2 separate regions of the Homo sapiens genome follow, and region 2 is linked to region 1. Evidence: fine-mapped expression QTL. A gene starts in region 1. The other region holds a variant in brackets. All regions are shown on one strand. Distances are from middle to middle. Region 1 holds the start of FBXO28 (F-box protein 28). Region 2 has its middle 9.1 kb from the start of CNIH4.

What was found. PIP is the estimated chance that this variant, and not a neighbour inherited with it, causes the effect.
Region 2: its variant is fine-mapped to the expression of FBXO28 in tibial nerve (GTEx, PIP 0.96).

What each region holds. Positions count from the first base shown.
Region 1 is chr1:224,112,386-224,115,220 of GRCh38, reverse strand. It overlaps FBXO28 (F-box protein 28), which reads right to left and starts at 1,110. Exons shown (of 5, transcript NM_015176.4): 1 at 825-1,110. The coding sequence starts at 1,091. It overlaps LOC105373056 (a long non-coding RNA gene), which reads left to right and starts at 1,181. Exons shown (of 3, transcript XR_007066897.1): 1 at 1,181-1,286. RefSeq lists enhancers at 1,048-1,117, 1,258-1,317, 1,338-1,467.
Region 2 is chr1:224,346,293-224,349,209 of GRCh38, reverse strand. No RefSeq gene overlaps it. Among named protein-coding and RNA genes, the nearest start is that of CNIH4, 9.1 kb to the left of the region's middle. The variant T/C (reference allele first, on the strand shown) is at 1,293.

The DNA.
Region 1 (2,835 bases):
AGTAAAACCCCAATGGCAAATTCATTATTTTTAAAAATCATGGACTGACCTATTGTGATTTTAAGGTATAAAGAAACCTCTCCTAAAGCAGGTGGGTGGGCGTAAATCACTAGTTAAAAATAAATTGCAAAAGAGAAAAAACCCGTCAAGGGGTAAGTTGCTTCTCTACGGTGGGAAGCGTTAGGATGAGGCAAAGCAGGAATGGTCATTTCCCAAGGCTCTACTTTAGTGGTCAATTAGGGCGCTGGGGCTAACGCTAAGTAAACACGTTCGAATTCTTCGGAACCTCTACCTGGGTTTGGGGTCACTGAGCCACCTTAGTCTACTCAATCTTCTCGAACAAGAAAACTTGGGTGGTTGGGGTGGGGAACAATTCGTTATTCTTGCAAGATAAACCAAACCTGGCTGGGATCATCTGCCTACTTCTGAGTTTTCTCCCCAAACCCAGGCCGGGGGCTGGAAGCGGCATACAAAAGGCAGGCGACATGACCTCTCCGGGTCTACTCTCGGGCCAGGCGGAAGGTGGGAAGACCAACTCCGCTACCCCTCCCGTAGAGGGCCCGCTTCCGGGCGGGGGGCAAGGAGCCCCCAAGGCGAAGTCCCCTCAGGAAGTAACCCCAGCTCCGCAGCTAGGACGCAATCGGGAACCAGCCCACTCCTGCTGACTGACGCCAAGGGAGAGTTCGGGACGGGAGCGGCTCCCTCCCAGATCTGTAGCCGGCTGGGGCTCGCGGGGGGCTCCCTTCCCGGGGAACGCGCTCCCTTCTCATCTCCCAGACCTCGGCCGGGGGGAGAGGGAGGCAGGAGTTCTGCGGGGGCCTCACCAGGCGGAGCTGGCTAATTTCGTCGTAGGACATAAAGCTGAGGATGTTCTCGATGGCTACGATGGGCAGCGCCACAAGCGTGTTGTTTTGAGGCAGCTGGTCCGGAGCCAGCGCGGGGGCTGGGAGCGCCTGGGACCCCGGCTGCGGGTGCTGTGGCGCGGGCGGTGGAGGCTGTCGCTGGGTAGAGCCGGAGGCCAAAGAGGAACCGCCGTCGCCTTGGCCGCCGCCTCCTTCCTCTGCCATCCGCTCCTCCGCCGCTGCCGCCATCTTGGGGGCTTGATTCCTTACCCCCACAGCAAGGGGAACAGGGACACTTCCGGTGCGTCACTTCCTCCTCCTGCAGCCGCCGGGGAAGGGGTACCTGGAGGAGTGGGGAGGAGCCTGTGGGATAACAGGCGGAGAGAGACTCACAGGGTGCCTTTCAAGTGGAAGTCAGGGAAGATCATGTAAACCTCAAGAAAGGTGGTCATCCTAGACCCTTTTGTCTAAGATTAGTAACTACTTGAGAGCAAGGAAACCCTATTTATTAAAATGAACTTCACTGTGCAGTTTTCTTAAAGGGCTTCCTGACAATGGATGATAAAGATGTTGCCTAGTAAGTGTAGATGGAAATAATGTAGTTAGACTAGCACCATTTTTTAGGAATCATAGAAATGATTGATTTAGGCAAATAAAAAGGTATGAAATATCAATAAGAACTACAACATGAATGAACCGTGAGAACATATTAAGTGAAATAAGTTAGACACAAAGGACCACATATTGTATGATTGCATTTATATAGGATGTCTTAAATAGGCAAATCCATAGAGATAAAAAGTAGATTAGTGGTCGCCAGAGGCTGGGGGAAATGGGGAAATGAGTGCTAATGGGTGAAGGGTTTCATTTTCGGGGTGATAAAAATGCTCTGGAATTAGCGGTGATGGTTACACAACCGTATGAATATACAAAAACCACTGAATTACTATATACTTTAATGAATTTTATCATATATGAATTGTATTCTAATAACTGATTTAGGCAAGAATCATCAAAAGGTACTAAAACTAGGAGGTAAACGTGATGAGGAACATGATATTTCCATAGTCTCAAAATAACTCCCCATAAATTATGTATTATTTACAAAGATGAAAAGAAATAGTTTACAAGGCTGGGCGTGTTGACTCACGCCTGTAATCCAGCACTTTGGAAGGCTGAAGCGGGAGAATCACTTTAGCCCAGAAGTTGGAGACCAGCCTGGGCAACGTGGAGAAACCCCATCTCTACAAAAAATACAAAAAATTAGCCAAATGTGGTGGCTAGGTCCTATGGTCCTAGCTACTCGTGAGGCTGAGATGGGAGGATTGCTTGAGCCACACGAGTTCGAGGCTGCAGCGAACCGTCAGCCTGCCACTGCACTCCAGCCTGGGCAACAGAGCGAGAAAAAAAAAAAAAGTTTACAATAGAGAAATTTGGTGGACACCATCATAACCAAATGATCAAGACTAACGCCACAGTTATAGGAGGAGCCAATATCATATGCCTATTAATATAATACCCTGAAAAGGACGCAGCATAATGTAGTATTCATGCAAAAAAAGCACGAGTTGCGTTTGAGGTAGACATCGCTAGATGACGGGCCCATAAATTATTCAAAAGTGTTAACGTTACAAAAGACAAAGACTAAGGGTTTGTGGCAGATTAAAGGATACTAAAGAGACAGGGCAACTAAATCTATGGGTGATCCTGGATGGGATCCTGGATTAAGGAAGAAATAACTATGAAGAACGTTATTGTGACAACTGGCAAAATTTAAAAATGGACAGTATATTAGATTATACTGTAATCATATTAAATTTTTCGATTTGGGTAATTGTATTATGGTCATATAAGACAATGTCTTTGTCTTTAGGAAATACACATTGAAGGATAAGCATGCTTCTATTATTTTCCTTTATTTATTTATTTATTTTTTTGAGATGGAGTCTTGCTCTGTCACCCAGGCTAGAGTGCAGTGGTGCGATGTCAGCTG
Region 2 (2,917 bases), 230 kb before region 1:
AAGATTGAGCTGAAACAACCAGAAAAAAACTATGAAAACATGAGCCTCAATCTCTACCTCACATCATACACAAAAATTAATTAGCAATATGCGATAAACCTAAATGTGTAAGTTAAAACTGTAACTCTTCCAGAAGAAAATTTAGAACATCTTTACAACCTTAGGCAAAAGTTTTAAGTAGATGTGTGAATGGTCAATAAGTACATGTAGCAGTGCTCAGCAGAGAAATGCTTTAAAACTGCAATTAGATACTACTTCACACTTAGGAGAATAGCTTTAAAAAAAAAAAAAACCCTGACAACACCAAATGTTCACAGAGAAATGAAGCAACATGTATTAAACAATACTGGTGAAAGTAAAAAAAAAAAAAAAAAAAAAAAAAAAGGTTGCAATGTCTCAACTACAAGGAATACAAAATTTGGGAGAAAGAAATTATCAGGATAAAAAACAATAAATGGTGTTTGTGTGTTAATATAATTTTTGTTTTAAAATACATGTTCTATTAGCGAGGCATGGTGTAACATGTCTATAGTCCAAGTGACTCAAGAGGCTGAGATGGGAGGATCACTTGAGACCAGGGGGTCGAGGCTGCAGTTAGCCATGATCATGCCACTGCACTTCATCCTGGGGAACAGAGCGAGACCTTGCCTCAAAAAAATATAATATAATAAAATACATAAGTAAAATAAAATATGTGTTATATTTTAAAAGTATAAACTGAACCGTTAGGGTTTCTGGTTTAGCACGTACAGACCTAAAAGTAGCAACTCTGTTCTTACAAGTAAAAACCCAAACAAACTGAAAAATCAAAAACTCTTCTTAGATCCATCAAAGAAGTGAAGTCATAGGGCAAACCCTCAATCTTCCTGTTTTCATTGTTGCACCTTGTTTTTCTTCTGTTATGTCTAGTCAGCACAATAAGGCAAGAAAAAAATATTTATAGGCTGGAAATGAAGTAATCAATTTTGTCTACATAGACTGTATTATTAGCAAAGAGAGGACACAAGGTTAACACACAAAAATTAATTGCATTTCCATATACTAGCAATTGCCAGTTAAAAATCAAAACAGTAGGCTAGGCATGGTGGTTCATGCCTGTAATCTCAGCACTTTGGGAGGCCAAGGCAGGCAGATCACCTGAGGTCAGGAGTTCGAGACCAGCCTGGCCAACATGGTGAAAACCCATCTCTACTAAAAATATAAAAATTAGCCAGACATGGTGGGGGGCACCTGTCATCCCAGCTACTGGGGAGGTTGAGGCAGGAGAATAGCTTGAATCCGGGAGGTGGAGG[T/C]TGCAGTGAGACCAGATCACACCACTGCACTCCAGCCTGGGTGACAGAGACCCTGTCTCAAAAAAAAAAAAAAAATCCAAACAGTACTACTTATAATATCATAAAAAATCATGAAATACTTAGGAATAAGTCTATTAAGATATCTCCGGGATCTGTATGTGATAAATACAAGACACTGATGAAATAAAAGAAAACCTAAATAGGTCAGATGCAGTGGCTCATGCCTGTAATCCCAGCACTTTGGGAAGCCAAGGTGGGTAGATCACTTGAGCCCAGAGGTTGGAGACCAGCCTAGGCAATATGGTGAAACCCCATCTCTACAAAAAATGCAAAAATTAGCCAGCCGTGTGGTGTGTCTGTAGTCTCAGCTATTTGGGAGGCTGAGTTGGGTGGATGACTTGAGCCTGGCAGGTTGAGCTACAGTGAGCAATGATCACACCAGTGCACTCCAGCCTGGGTGAGACAGCAAGACCCAGAAGAAAAAAAAAAGAAAGAAAAAGAAAGAAAGAAAGACAGACAGACAGAAAGAAAGAAAGAAAGAGAGAAAAGAGAAAACCTAAATAAAATCTAAAAACCTAAAAAAAAAAAATCATGTTCATGGATTAGAAGACTCAATATTGTTAAAATGTCGGTTCTTCCAAAACAGATCTATAGGTTCAATGCAATCCAATTAAAACAATATTAGCATTTTTGTAGAAATCTTAACCGTATTCTAAAATTTATATGGAAAGACAAAGGAATTTCAACAGCCAAGACAATTTTGAAAAAGAGCAAAGTTGAAGGGCTCACACTACCTGATTTCAAGATGTACTAAGGGCTACCACAATCAAAACACTGTGATATTCATGAAAGGAGAGATAGATGCATAGATATTTTGGAACAAAATTAAGAATATAGAAATAGACCCACAAATATATGGTCAATTAATTTTTTTGATAAACATACAAAGACGATTTAACGGAGAAGCTATATTCTTTTCCAGAACAAACTGTTCTGGAACCACTAAACAGCCATATACAACAACAACAAAAACTTTGGCTCATACCTCTCACCTTATTCACAAATTTAAAAATAGAATCATAGTATAAAGGAAAAAAATGTGATCTTGGTACAATCTTGGCAACCCTATATGCAGTAAAGCAGGAAAGCAATATCTTCAATCTTCTTACACAGAAATTCAGTCAATATTGATTGAATATCTGCATCAATAAACCTAATTGACACAGAATTTATCTTCCTTCCATCCAGTGCCAAACACAAATGCCACATAAAAAGCAACATTAAAAAATAAACACTAGGTCAGGCATGGTGGCTCACACGTTACCCCAGTACTTTGGGAGGCCAGGGCAGCAGGATCTTGAACTCACTTGAAGCCAAGAGTTCAAGACTAGCCTGGGTAAAACCCTCTCTCTACAAAAATAAAATTTTAAAAAAACAGCTGAGTGTGGTAGTACATGCGTGTATTCCCAGTAACTTGGGAGGCTGAGTCAGGAGGATCACTTGAGCCCAGGAGTTTGAGGTTACAGTGAGCTGTGGTCCCACCAATCTACACCAGCCTGAGTGACAAGAGCAAGATCCCAACTCAAAAACAAAAATAAAAATAATTTTAAAAATAAACAGTAAAC